Linked DNA regions of Homo sapiens. The protein of the gene in region 1 interacts with the protein of each later gene in a pairwise test. Each region holds a gene or a part of one and is shown in the gene's direction. Other genes may lie near its edges.

Region 1 (7,425 bases):
AGCCTCAGTCTTTAGGAGGGTGGCTGTCCCTGGGAAATGGATGATGCGGTCTGTGGAGGAAATGCGCTTTCTATTTAGGGAGGCTGTTTAGGAGTAGCTGACGACATGCTCAGCACCTGGATGGGTGGAAATAAACAGAGACATGAAGCAATAATTTATGCCGTGTCCTCTGTCAACCTAGCCACCACCTCCTCCTCCCTGGGCTCCAGGAAGTTGCTCAGAGTTGTGGCGCTGGGAGGAGACTGCGGGAGCTATGCTGGTGAAGCGATGCTGTCATCTGAGCTTGTGCTTTACACACACTGGGCTTTTTTTTTTTTTTTTTTTTTTGAGACAGAGTCTTGCTCTGTCACCCTAGGCTGAAGTGCAGTGGCGCAATCACAGCTCACTGCAGCCTCGACCTCCCAGGCTCAAGCAATGCATCCACCTCACTCTCTTGAGTAGCTAGGACCACAAGGGCATGGCACCACATCTGGCTAATTTTTAGAAATTTTTTTGTAGAGACGGGGTCTCACTATGTTGCCCGGGCTGGTCTCAAACTCCTGGGCTCAAGTGATCCTCCTGCCTCAGCCTCCCGAAGTGTTGGGATTATAGGCACAAGCCATCATGCCCAGCCCCCTCCAGGCCTTTGTACCTTCTGTGTCCTCACCTGGAGTACCTGCCCCCTGAACTACCCATTGAACTCTTTATTTAGTGGCCCACCTCCTCTAAGAAGTGCTACCTCCTCTAAGAAGGCCCCCCTCATATCCAGTCTGTGGTTCCTAAATTGCAGCTAATGACTACCCCATGAGCTCACACATTAGAGTTGGAAATCTACTTTCAAATGACCCCACTTTGTGTCTAAAGCACTCTGACCTTCTTCTACCCCCACCCCAGTCGCACATCAGTGAGCTTCAGGGAATCTCTGGAATTGAATACAAAGTCATGTGCAAAATCAGATGTGCAAATGTATGGATAAACAAAATACAGTATACCCATAAACGAAATATTATTCAGCCACGAAAAGGAATGGAGTCACTGATACGTGTTAAGTGAAAAAAAAAAAAACAGACAGAAAAGGCCAAATATTGTATGATTCCATTGATATGAAGTATCAAGAATAGGCAAATCAGTAAAGACAGAAAGGAGCTTAGCGATTGTTAGGGGATGGGGGTCGGGGCTGGGGAATGACTGGTAGAGGGTTTCCTTTGGGGATGATGAAAACATTCTGGATGTAGGTAGTGTAGGTAGTGGTGATGGTGGCACTACATTGTGTGTGTACTAAATGTCACTCAGTTGAATATATTAAAATGGTGACTTTTATGTTATGTGTATTTTACAACAGTTTTAAAAAAAGTCAAATGCACGTTTCTCAGGAGAAGATTCCTAGGTTTGATTGGCTTCTCAAAAGGTGAAGCAGCTCTGATCTGGTCTGGACCCCTTCATGTCATGATGCAGATGGTGATACTGGGACACAGACAGGGGGTGAGACCTGTCCAAGGTCACTCAGGGGCTGGTGGCAGAGCCCAGCCAGGTTGCATGCCTGCCTGACCACATACTCCCCTACCTGCTTCTTCCCTTGTCCTTTGGTCACCAAACCCTCCCGTCACAATCCCCAAGCCTCTGTCCTGCTCCCAAACATGCCACCCACAAGCTGTGTAACTTCCCAAAGTTAAAAGGCCTTCTTCCTGAAACTGGGTGCACGGATTAGAGTTTCATGAGCGTTTGTCTTTTGCTCTAGAGTGGACTCTGAGCTCCTAGAGGGCAAGAGGAAATGTTTCTTATTTTCCTCCATATCTTACAGAGCTTCTGGGACAGCCACGGAGGTGAGCCATTCCTGTCTCCCTTCAAGAAAGAACTTGCCATTCACCCTCAAGGAGGGCAGTTAGCTGACAACTTCTAACAAACATTCTTTGCCCAGAGGACATGCTGGGTTGGCCAAGACTTTGTTAGATCTGCAGCACAGTCTGAGGCTCTCCCAGCCCTTTCCTGCTTCCTCTCCCTCACCGGCCTTGCCACTACCCCCTCTCTCCGCAATAAACCTCTTGCGGTCCTATGTTCATCTCAGTGCTTGCTTCCTGGAGGACCCACATGGCACAGCACCTAGCCTGCTGGATCATAAGTGCTCAGTCGCGAAGTAAACGGAACTGGGGATTCTCTAGAGGGTAGAGGGAAGCCAGAGCCTGGGCCTCGGAGAGCAGGAGAGGGGCTGTCCGTGGAGGATGCCTCAGTCATAAGGAGAGCAAGGTCTAGAGCAGTGTGAAGAAGGGGCCATGGCCCTGGAGCAGGACCCAGCAACGGGCAACACACAGGGAACTCAGGGATTCACCAGCACTGCTGGCATCGTCTCTAGCTCCTCCGCTGTCTGGGGCAGCTCTTGCAAACTCAGAAATGTCCCAGGAGACAGGGTTCAAAGAGCCCTGGCCTTGGACTTTAGAAAACCAGGTTCAATTTGTGCTTCCCGCTAGTCAGGTGACATTACACCCTTCTCTCTGGAGCTCAGTTTCTCCGTTTGTAAAATGGGCTTATAATGTGTCCCCTCCCTTCAACCCCAGCATGATTTTGAGAATTGACTGAGAAGATACTACAGTTTATGGAGGGCACCCTGTTTCGTAGTTTAAATGCACACTCAGGCCAGGTGAGGTGGCTCATGCTTGTAATCCCAACACTTTGAGAGGCCAAGGCGGGAGGATCGCTTAAGCCCACGAGTTCAAGACCAGCCTGAACAACATAGCAAGACCCTGTCTCTACAAAAAATTTAATAATTAGCTGGGTGCAGTGGCACATGCCTGTAGTCCCAGCTACTCGGAAGGCTAAGGCAGCAGGATCATTTAAGCTCAGGAGTTTGAAGCTGCAGTGAGCTATGATTGTGCCACTGCACTCCAACCTGGGCAACAGAGTGAGATACTCGCTAAGAAAAAGAAATACATACATATTCATTTAACCCTGGCAGTGGCCTTGTGAGAGCAGCATTATGACCTCCATTTTATGTATGTATATATGTATGTATGGATGTATGAGATGGGGATCTCACTTTGTTGCCCAGGCTGGAGTACAGTGGTGCAATCAGAGCTCACTGCAGCCTGGACCTCCTGGGCTCAAGCAATCTTCCTGCCTTAGCCTCCAGAGTAGCTAAGACTACAGGTGTGGGCCACCAAAGCCAGCTAATTAAAAAAAAATTTTTTTAGGCTAGGCACGGTGGCTCACGCCTGTAATCCTAGCACTTTGGGAGGCCGAGGCGGGCAGATCACGAGGTCAGGAGTTCGAGACCAGCCTGACCAACTGGTGAAACCCCATCTCTACTAAAAATACAAAACTTAGCCAGGCATGGTGGCACTCGTCTGTAATCCCAGCTACTCAGGAGGCTGAGGCAGGAGAATCGCTTGAACCTGGGAGGCAGAGGTTGCAGTGAGCCGAGATGGCACCACTACACTCCAGCTTGGGCACAGAGCAAGACTCCGTCTCAAAAAAAAAAAAAAAAAAATTTTTTTTTTTTTTTAGAATGGAGTCTCCCTACGTTGCTCAGGTCAATTTTGAACTCCTGGCCTCAACCAATCCTCCTGCCTCAGCCTTCTAAAGCACTAGGATTGTAGGCCTGAACCACTGTGCCCAGCAGAGAAAACCGGCTCTCTAGGTCAAGGCATTGGCTCAAGAACACACAGCTAACAAGCCGACATAGCTGGGATTAGAACCCAATTGTCTGGCTCTAGAACCCCTTCACTATTTGAGGTACAATTTACTGCCTGACTACTAGTGCTAAACTTTGGGTTGGGGGCAGGGCCTGAGGCAGCTCCTGCTCTCATACATTCTGAGAGCCAGTTTGACAATAGGCAACTACACAAAAAACCGAAATAATCCCAGAATGCCTCAGGGCTCCAGGGGAAGGCGAAAAAAGCGGGTGCGTTTATAAACTTAAAATAATCAGAGGCAGCATCTCCAAGGACTGTGAGAATGCCCCAAGTCAGGGCAAAAGTTTTGGCTGGTTTGGGAAGTGATGAAAGGCCAAAGTGGCTGCAGCGAGCGTGGACCCGGGAGGTCTCCAGGCGCGTTGGTGCGAGTTGGGGACGGCAGGCAGGGACACCTAAAACCTACGGTACGCCACGAAGGGGTTTCAGCACGTCCTGAAAGGCCCGATCCCCCCCCAGAACCGCTGTGAGGGGGGCAGAGGGAGGTCCCTCGACAGGATGTGGCCTTAGTCGAGGAAGGCGGGAAGCAGGGGCTGGCACCCCCGACGCCCCACCCGCCCCCCGTGGCCTAGCAGCAGGGCGGGGCGAGGCGGGTCATGCACCCCTACCAGCCAGCCACTCCCACCCAGCCCTCGGCTCCCGCAACTCGCGGGGGTCCTCGCCCGGGTCCCCCGCCCCGCCCCGCCCGGCTGGTGACGTCACGGCGCTCGTCGGCGCCGCCTGTGGCGTCACAGGCCGGGCCCGCAGGGCTTTCTAGGGGTCCGTCGCTCTTGAAGCCGCCGGCGGCGGGCGCGTGCGCGGCCCGATGAAGAAGGAGGTTTCCAAGCCGTCTCCGCCCAAGTTGATCGGTGGATGCGCGCCCCCGCGCGGGGCACCGGTTGCTGTGGACGCAGTGGCGGCCGTTGGCTGGCGGGTGCGGCGCAGCCTCGGTGTCTCTGGGCCGGCGGTGCAGGGCAACGTTTCATGGTGCCGGGCGGCACCATGAAGTCTCTAAAGAAGGATTCCCGCCTCAGAATAACTCCGACCAGATTATTAGAGGCCTCAGAGAATGTCAAAGGTTGGCGCTGGCTGCCTTGGGCGCTCGGGAGAACCCGAGAGGGGAAGCGGTCCCCGGAAAGAGTTCAGGACACGGGGCCTGGAGGATGGGGATGGCACCAGGGATGGAGGAAAGATCACGGGGAAGTGGGGTACTGGGCATAGGACCCTTAGGGATGGGGGGCAAGGCAGGAAGAGCCTACAGCGCACTGGGCCTTGGGGATGGGGACATAGGAAGTGGGAGACTGACAGAGGGGCCTCAGGGACCACTGGCTGGGGAGATGGCCTTGCGCTACCTCTAACCACATCTTAGGGTGGCATGCAGGAGGCAGGATCCCCGGACTGGATGAAGTGCAGAAGAGCCAGGAAAGAGTTTAAGGGTAGAAGGGCCAGGAATTGGGGTCCTTGGGAAGAGGAAAGAATGAAGTGTTGAAACCAGCCACCTTGATGGGATTATTTGGTAGAGGAGGGTCGGGGAGCGGGGCAGGCGTCACTTAGGATTCCTGCTGGAAAAACCCAGAAGAAAGGCCTTGCTTGGCTAGTTCTCTTTTTGACTGCCTTTTCCTACCACGTGCACTTTCCAGCTGGATGACACTTATCCAGCTCCTTTAGCCTGGAAAGAATCGCTAGATATGACTGCTTCCTACCCTCTACAGCTTTCTTCTGGTTGCACCTGGGAGAGCCACAGGGCGTCTGATAGCGGACTGACTTCCATGGACATGTTCTCACTTGCAACCCACCCCCTTTTGATCTTTTTTGGCTGTTTCCATTTATTTATTTTTAAATTTAATTTTTAGCTTTTTTTTTCTGTGTGTGTGTGTGTGTGTGTGTGTGTGTGTGTGTGTGTTTGTAAACAGGGCTCTCGCTGTGTTGCCCCAGCTAGTGTCAAATTCTTGGCCTCAAGCGATCCTCCTGCCTCGGCCTCACAGACTGCTAGGATTCCAGGCATGGACCACTGCGCCCAGCCTATTTTTGTTTACTGAGAGCTGATTTTGTGTGGTACTGTGGCTCACCAGAAGGGTATCGGTATTAACTGTGTGACCCTGGTCCTCAAGAAACTCAGTCTAATGAACACCTGGAGGAGTAACCTGACAAAGGTAGAAATACAAATGCTGTGATGTAGGTGCCCATCGGGCTTAAGGGGGCTCAGAGCACCTGAGCCAGACCAGGGATGGTTGTAGGGGTACGTCTTCTGAAGAAGGTGACATCTATGGCAGACAAGAAAAAAAAGGAGAGGTTTGCTTCTCTAGGTCTAGGAAGCAGCATGAGTTTATGGAACTGTAAATGTGGGAACCAGAAGAGGCTGCACAGGTGGGTAGGTCAGGGGCCAGACCATGAAAGGGCTTTATGTACTAGGTCAGAAAGCCTGGATGTGCTCTTGCAGGCCCTGGGGAGACCCAGCCTCAGAGTTGTGAAAGCTCATTGTGAGGAGAGGGGACCCTCAGAAAACTAACAGGAGCTTAGTCGCTTTTCAGTATGGCTTTATGTTTCTTCACGTATAAAAGTCCAACGTTGAGCCGGGCATGGTGGTGCACATCTGCAGTCTCAGCTGCTCAGGAGGCTGTGGCAGGAGGATTGTTCCAGGCCAGGAGTTTATGATCACACCTGTGAATAGCCACTGCATTCCAGACTGGGCAACACAGTGAGACCCCCATTATTAAAAAAATAAAAGTCCAATGCTGTTTTATGACATACTATATATATATATGTATGTATTTTATATATATTATGTATATGTGTATATATGTGTGTGTGTGTGTGTGTGTGTGTGTATATATATATATATATATATATATATATATATATATGTATTTTGAGACAGGGCCTCGCTCTGTCACCCGGGATGGAGTGCCGTGGTACAGTCATAGGTCACTATAGTCTTGAACTTCTGGGCTCAAGTGAACCTCCTGCCTCAGCCTCCCAAGTTGCTAGTATTACAGGTGCACACCACCATGCCTGGCAAATTTTTTTTTTTTTTTTTTTTGTAGAGACAAGTTGCCCAGGCTGGTCTTAAACTCCTGGGCTCAAGCGATCCTCCCACCTTGGCCTCCCAAAGTGCTGGGATTACAGGCATGAGCCACCGTGCCTGGCCCGTGACATACTTTTTAATAGTTGAGAGAGAGGGAATATCTGGTCTCCTTTCACAAGGGCAGTCAAGGGCTTTCCTAGCCACTGCCTCCTGCTCACATAGTTTCTGGGAGATCGTATCAGATTTGAACTGCTGTAAACAAATCAAGGAAAGATTTTTCACTGCATATTTATTTTTAATAAGCAGAAAATTTAGTTTGTTAATTAACCCTTGAGTTAAGAACATGCACCAGAGTGAGGAGGGAAAAAAAATGAAGTGTTTAGCATGCAAGATATCTTTTTAAAAATATCTCAGGGGAGCCTCTAATGTTGTAGAGCAGTACTCTCCCCCAGCCCCCATACAAGGCAGCTAATGACCCAGTGTCATTTTGTAACCTTGTGCGATGTTTCTCCAAAGTCTCTGACTCATAAGCAAAAAGGAAAGCAAAAATAGTGACTTAAACCTGTTTCTCGGGACCTGAGAGCCCTTTTGAGTCCTAGTACCCTCCCTTCCTGCTATGCACCACCTCCCCACCGCTGTCTTGTTGCTAAGAAACCAAGAACCCTCCTAGCAATATTAGATTCCCCTCCCCAACCAATTAAAGCTCTGCCCTAGTAGGGACAGCCCCTCCATGGTTCCCCCAGCCCAACCCTAAGGTCA
Region 2 (7,000 bases), on another chromosome or scaffold:
TTTTTCGAGACAAGGTCTCTGTCGCCCAGACTGGAGTGCAGTGGTGCAGTCATGTCTCAGTGCAGTCTTAATCTCCCAGGTTCAAGCAATTCTCCCACCTCAGGCACCCAAGTAGCTGAGACTACAGGCACGCACCACCATGTCCGGCTGATTTTTAATTTTTTTTTTTTTTTTTTTTTGAGACGGAGTCTTGCTCTGTCACCCAGGCTGGAGTGCAGTGGTGCGATCTCTGCTCACTGCAAGCTCCGCCTCCCGGGTTCACACCATTCTCCTGCCTCAGCCTCCCAAGTAGCTGGGACTACAGGTGCCTGCCACCATGCCCGGCTAATTTTTTTTGTATTTTTAGTAGAGACGGGGTTTCACCATGTTAGCCAGGATGGTCTCAATCTCTTGACCTCATGATCTGCCTGCCTCGGCCTACCAAAGTGCTGGGATTATAGGCGTGAGCCATCATGCCTGGCCAATTTTTTTTTTTTTTTGTAGAGTTGGGGTGTTGCCCAGGTTGATCTCAAACTCCTGGGCTCAAGCAATCCTCCTGTCTTGGCCTCTCAAAGTGCTGGAATTTCAGGAATGAGCCACTTTGGCCTAAATTTTTACAGCTTATTTCCAAGATGATTTGAAATAGTTTATAACATTAAAACACTATGAAAGGATGGCTAAAGATGATAAATCATTTGGAAGCTGAAGCATTTTAGCTATTTTGAGCGCTATATCAACCTCTAAAAATCCTGGCTGCGAAGGCAAAAAGGGGAGCATGATTGGGTATAGAGTTCTTGTCTGATTACAAGGAAGTGCATTTCATCTATAGAACAGCACAGGAAACTTTGTATTTACAGTATCTTCTGCAACTATCAACCTTTCAAGTACCAGTGACAAATGAGAAGCTGAAAGAAATGGGGTGGGGGAATAAGAGGAGGAGAGAGTAGAGTATTAATATTCATGTCTTATAAAATGAGGATTTGGCCAGGTGTGGTGGCTCACACCTGTAATCCCAGAACTTTGGGAGGCTGAGGTGGGTGGATCACCTGAGGCTGGGAGTTCGAGACTAGCCTGACCAACACAGAGAAACCCCGTCTCTACTAAAAATACAAAATTAGCCGGGCATGGTGGCACATGCCTGTTATCCCAGCTACTAGAGAGGCTGAGGCAGGAGAATCGCTTGAACCTGGGAGGCGGGGGTTGTGGTGAGCCAAGATTATGCCATTGCACTCCAGCCTGGGCAACAAGAGCAAAACTCTATCTCAAAAAAAAAAACAAAAAAAAAAAACCAAATGAATTTCTCAAAAAATAGTGATTTTTTCATACTGTATATTATTTTGGTAAGTTATTAAAACTCTAAAAGAACAAAAGGGAAGTATGTAAGTTGGTTTACAACAGGACTTAACTTGGGGTCTAGATATCTATCACTGTTTTTTTGTTTGTTTGTTTTGTTTTTTTGTTTTTGAGACAGAGTCTTGCTCCATCGCCCAGGCTGGAGTGCAGTGGCACGATCTCGGCTCACTGCAAGCTCCGCCTCCTGGGTTGACGCCATTCTCCTGCCTCAGCCTCCTGAGTAGCTGGGACTACAGCCGCCCGCCACCACGCCTGGCTCATTTTTTGTATTTTTTAGTAGAGACGGGGTTTCACTGTGTTAGCCAGGATGGTCTTGATCTCCTGACTTCGTGATCTGCCCGCCTTGGCCTCCCAAAGTGCTGGGATTACAGGTGTGAGCCACTGCGCCCAGCCACATTTTTTTTGTGTGTGTTTACTTTTTTTGCTTTTATTAGATTTTTCAAAGGGTTCCATGCACAAAAAGGCCAACCACTGATTTAGAGTTTTTTATCTAAGTAGTAAATTCTAGGAGGAATTTGTTCCATAGATGAAGAGCAAGGCAGTGCTCATATGAGTGATTAGATATGAAACCACTCAAGTATATCTTATTTTAATGTTGATTTGAGCATGTTGACTACTGGTAAAGTTTTTGGTTGGTGGTTATTTAGCAAAACAAACTTAATTTTTAAGACCATTTTTGAATTCAGAGCTTCTTCCGGTAATTACCATAGTCCTGTTGATTCTTTCCTAAATTCTCGAATTTCTTTCTTCTCACTGTTCTCTCACTCCCATCACTCTACTGCAGGTTGCTGTCTTTTTAAACTGGATTACCACATCAGCCTTTTAACTGTTCTTCCTGTCTTTATCCTTGTCCCACTCCAGCTGGTCCACATAGCAGTTAAGAGTGGATCCTGTCACTCCCTTCCTTTAAACTGTTTAATTATGTGCCAACCAAATTTGCATGACTCTCCCTAATCTGGCCATGACCACCTTTCCAGCTTCCTTTCCTGCCAAATTACATCTCCAGCCATACTTGAATTTTCAGTTCCTCAATACATTGTTTTCTTGCTCCTGGGCCTTCCCATTTTATCTGAAACACTCAACCCCTAGGTATCAGGTCTTTGCCTTCCTTTAGGAAGCCTTCCCTGATGTCCTAGGTTTGCTTAGGTGTTCTTCCAGTGTGCTACTGCAACCCATTATCCAGTATTCCTGCTTGATACCCTCTGTCTAGTTCCTTGCATATCTTTTATGCTTGACTGTAAATTTGTTGAGAACAGGGACCTTGTCTGTCTTGTTCAGCATTGTATAGTCTTTGCAATGTGCTCAGCGTATAGTTGGCACCTAATATTTACTGGGTAATGGAACATAATTTCAGCCATTCAAATTTAATACGTCAATTGTTGCTTTTTCTGCTTTTTGATTTGCAGTGTTGGTAGCCTTATATGAAGAACCAGAGAAACCTAACAGTGCTTTGGAGTATCCTTTCAAGTCAGAAAAAGGCTTTATTTTGAAACTCTTATTTTTTTAGATAGATAATAACCTTTAAAATACTTCTGAATATTGAGAAAGTTACTTTTTTTTTTTTTTTTTTGAGACGGAGTCTTGTACTGTCACCTGGTGGGGAATGCAGTGGCGCAATCTTGGCTTACTGCAACCTCCGCCTCCTGGCTTCAAGCGATTCTCCTGCCTCACGTCTCCCAAGTAGCTGGGATTACAGGTGCCCACCATCACACCCAGCTAATTTTTTTTATTTTTAGTAGAGACGGGGTTTCACTATGTTCATCACGTTGGTCTCAAACTCCTGACCTCGTGATGTGCCCACCTCAGCCTCCCAAAGTGCTGGGATTACAGGCGTGAGCAACCGCACCTGGCCAAGAAAGTTAGTTTCACTTGAGTTTTTGGATGGTGATCTCTGGGTAGATATTGGTGGTAAAGTGGGTGACTCTGGTCAGGGATATTGATACTACTCTGTGCTATTTCATTAGTTTCATTCATGTCTAAGAAGTAAGTTCTTAACATTGATAATAGTTTTTTAAAGCATCACTTAGGAGCTGCTACTCCAGAAAATCCAGAAATAGAGCTGCTTCGCCTAGAACTGGCCGAAATGAAAGAGAAGTATGAAGCTATTGTAGAAGAAAATAAAAAACTGAAAGCAAAGGTAAATTTTTAAAAAGAATTCATATTCAAATAATTTTACCTGTAATAATTGTATGATGAAAACCTCACTGAAATGGACAGGAGGGGAGGGAGGTGGGTGAATATCAATTTGAATTAATTACAATGTAAGGCCAAAGTTATGCCCTGTCAAGAAAACCACAAGACGGGCCTGGCACGGTGGCTTACGCCTGTAATCCCAGCACTTTGGGAGGCCGAGGTGGGTAGATCACGAGGTCAAGAGTTCGAGACCAGCCTGGTCAACATGGTGAAACCCTGTCTCTACTAAGAATACAAAAATTAGCCGGGCATGGTGGCATGTGCCCATAATCCCAGCTACTCGGGAGGCTGAGGCAGGAGAATCGCTTGAACCCGGCAGATGGAAGTTCCAGTGAGCCAAGATCGTGCCACTGTGCTCCAGCCTGGGTGACAGAACAAGACTTCATCTAGGGGGGTTAAAAAAAAAAAAAGAAAACCGCAAGACATACTGGAAATAGGACAAGCAAAGAAGCAAAGTGTGGTCAAGAAGAGGTTCTGGCTGGGTGCGGTGGCTCACGCCTATAATCCCAGCACTTTGGGAGGCTGAGGTGGGCAGATCACCTGCGGTCAGGTGTTCCAGATCAGCCTGGCCAGCATGGAGAAACCCCGTCTCTACTGAAAATACAAAATTAGCCGGGCTTGGTGGTGCATGCCTGTAATCTCAGCTACTTGGGAGGCTGAGGCAGGAGAATTGCTTGAACCCGGGAGGTGGAAGTTGCAGTGAGCCGAGACTGTGCCACTGCACTCCAGCCTGGGCAACAAGAATGAAACTCTGTCTCAAAAAAAAAAAAAAAAAAAAAGAGGTTCTTAGGAACCTGTATTACTAAAAGGATGAGAATATTGGTTAATGTTCTTTATAAGTAAATGGTCAGTTCTGAGGTTCTTAAGCAGTTGATTTTAAGTAGGCCAATATGGGGCGACTGCTTTGTAAATGGCACTTCTTAGAATTTGTATGGTTCATAGTTTGCAAGGCCATATGTAGCGGCCCTCTGTAAATTTGTTAGGACTTAATTTTATCTAGTGCTAAAGTTTTTTCTTTCTTTTTTTGAGACAGGTTCTCTGTTACCCAGGCTTGTGTGCAGTGGTGCAGTCATGTCTCACTGCAGCCTTGACTTCCCAGGCTCAAGTAATCCCCCCACCTCTGCCTCCTGAGTAGCTGGGACTGCAGGCATTTGCCACCATGCTCGGCTAATTTTTAAACTTTTTGTAGAAATGGGGTCCCATTATGTTGCCCTGGCTGGTCTCAAACTCATGACTCAAACGTTCCTCCTGGCCTGGCCTCCCGAAGTGTTGGGATTATAGGCATGAGCCACCTCACCCAGCCAGTTTTTTCTTTTTTCAAAGTCCTGTGAGAATTTTCATGAACTTCAAATTAGTCAACTCTTAAGTCTTTCAGGTCTTACCACATTCTTAATCACATAATGTATTTTACATTACTCTAAGTATTTCTCATAATATATTTTATCTTCTCAACAACTTTGTGAGATAAGTGAAACAAGTACACAAGCCACTTTATAGGTGAGGAAACGAAAGCACAGTGAAGTCTAATAAGCTTCTCAACTCCAACAGGTAGTTGGCAGAACCCTAATGTTAGCCTAGTGTTCTTGCAAGGAACCACACTTAGCATAAAAGAAAATGCAGTTATTTTAAATTATCCAAGATTCCACAATGTGTAGTGCTAGTTAACTCTTTGGAACCTTTTAACTCAAAGACATTAGTAGTTGTTTATTGGCTGGTTAAGTTAAGACATGTCACTTAACTCTTTATCTACTTTTCAGTGGGTATTTTCAGTAAACTTTTGCTGGAGAGGAAGAAAGTTCCTTATAAGCAAATGAATCTTTGGGAAGATATAGTTTATTGCATATCAAGTATTTGAACAGTGCAGTCATGAACTGGAATGAAATTTTAGTTTCAAAGCAATTTTAAAGGTTTATATAAAAAGGGCTTTCATTAGATTTGATTGTATTAAATCTTAAATCACTGAATGATTTAAAATGGATAGTTATAGAAACTGATATTAATACAATTTACTGACAGTAACTAAGTTGAATATAACAGTTACCTTGTTTTACTATTTTTTACTCAATTTAGAATAAAATTCACCTAAATTCCTCTGTCTTTGCCCCATAGCTTGCTCAGTATGAACCACCTCAGGAGGAGAAGCGTGCTGAATAGGATTCTTCTCAGTTTGAAAGACAATGAAAAATGGTTTTGTATGACTTGAATAGTTTGTATAGTATATAATCTTTTCTGAACAGATGCTATAGAACTCTTTTAATATGTTTAATTCACCTATCACACTCTGTTAAAAACACATAGAATCATCAATAAAAACTCAATATAACTTTCTTTGGGTCTTAAAGCAGGAGAATCCAAAGTAAATCCTGAACAAAACCTAAACACAGCCATCTAACTCATTACCTTAAAAGACATTCTGTTTATTAGTCTGATTAGGAATGATGGCACTGGTTGTATTTTAGCCAAGACAGTTTAGCATGGAGCTATTCCTTGGTGCAGTTCAGGATATGAACACAGGTACAGTCATTCTTTGAAGGTGACACTGTTCTGTATATTCCCTATAGGCAGCTGGAGAGATCTGTGTGACACAAGATGCTTTTGTACGGGTTCCCATGAATCTTCTGCTCTTGTTTGTGTGACATGGAACAAATAACTTCTTTGCCACCACTTTGCCTTAGATAACTGTGTGTGTGTGTGCCAGTTTGAACTCTGACACCACATTTTCCTTCTATGCAATCATGCCTGTCTGATAATCTTGCATTGCTTTCCTCTGAGCTTTAGTGGGTCCTAGTTGCACACTGGCCTTTCTGTGCTGTTTTTCAATTTGCCTAATAATAGCAGTTACCCTGATTGTAATTTATGTAACTTTAAACAGGATCACACTGTACCCCCTGCCTGCCTTATTTGCTTACTGAGCACAGGACAGAGGCAATATACAACTCTGGGTTCACACACAAGCTGAGATGAGAAGAGGAATGAGCCATATATTGGGGAAAATCATAGTTTGTAGGTATAATTATATAGTGCTTTTCTCCCTCAAAGTATTTTTCTAGCCTTGAATTCATTTTATCTTCATTATCCCTGTGAAGTAGGTGGGACAAGTATAAGGGGAAGAGGGGTGCTGAATTTTTAGGCCAAAGACTGATATTAATACAAATCACTCACTAACTGTAGAGCCTTGGGCATTATCAGTGAACTACTCTGAGATTTACTGTCTTCATCTGTTTAATGAGTAGAATGTCCGTGATGCCTACCTCACAGGGTTGTTGTGAGGGTCAAATGAGAATGTATGTGAAAGATTTGTAAATGGTAAAGCACTATATTCTTGTTTGTTAGTCCTTTTTCCTTTCTTTGGGTAGACCTACAGTCAGATGTTTTGTTTTATGGATCACTTATTTTCCTTACTGGTAGACTGTCGTTTTATAGACATATTCCTATTTCATATATTCTCTCCCTGTTGTTAGAGAACCTATCTTTG

What was found. The genes of interacting proteins can lie anywhere in the genome.
Region 2: the proteins of MYCBPAP (region 1) and MYCBP interact in binary tests that used the Homo sapiens proteins (3 or more experiments, as listed by UniProt).

The regions. Positions count from the first base shown.
Region 1 is NC_000017.11:50,504,032-50,511,456, forward strand, and holds the start of MYCBPAP (MYCBP-associated protein), read left to right. Parts: upstream 1-4,407; 5' UTR 4,408-4,514; coding exon of another isoform or gene 4,515-4,643; coding exon 4,644-4,719; intron 4,720-7,425. UniProt on the Homo sapiens protein: May play a role in spermatogenesis. May be involved in synaptic processes.
Region 2 is NC_000001.11:38,863,349-38,870,348, reverse strand, and holds part of MYCBP (C-Myc-binding protein), read left to right. Parts: intron 1-2,738; coding exon 2,739-2,787; intron 2,788-3,339; coding exon 3,340-3,469; intron 3,470-5,634; coding exon 5,635-5,679; 3' UTR 5,680-7,000. UniProt on the Homo sapiens protein: May control the transcriptional activity of MYC. Stimulates the activation of E box-dependent transcription by MYC.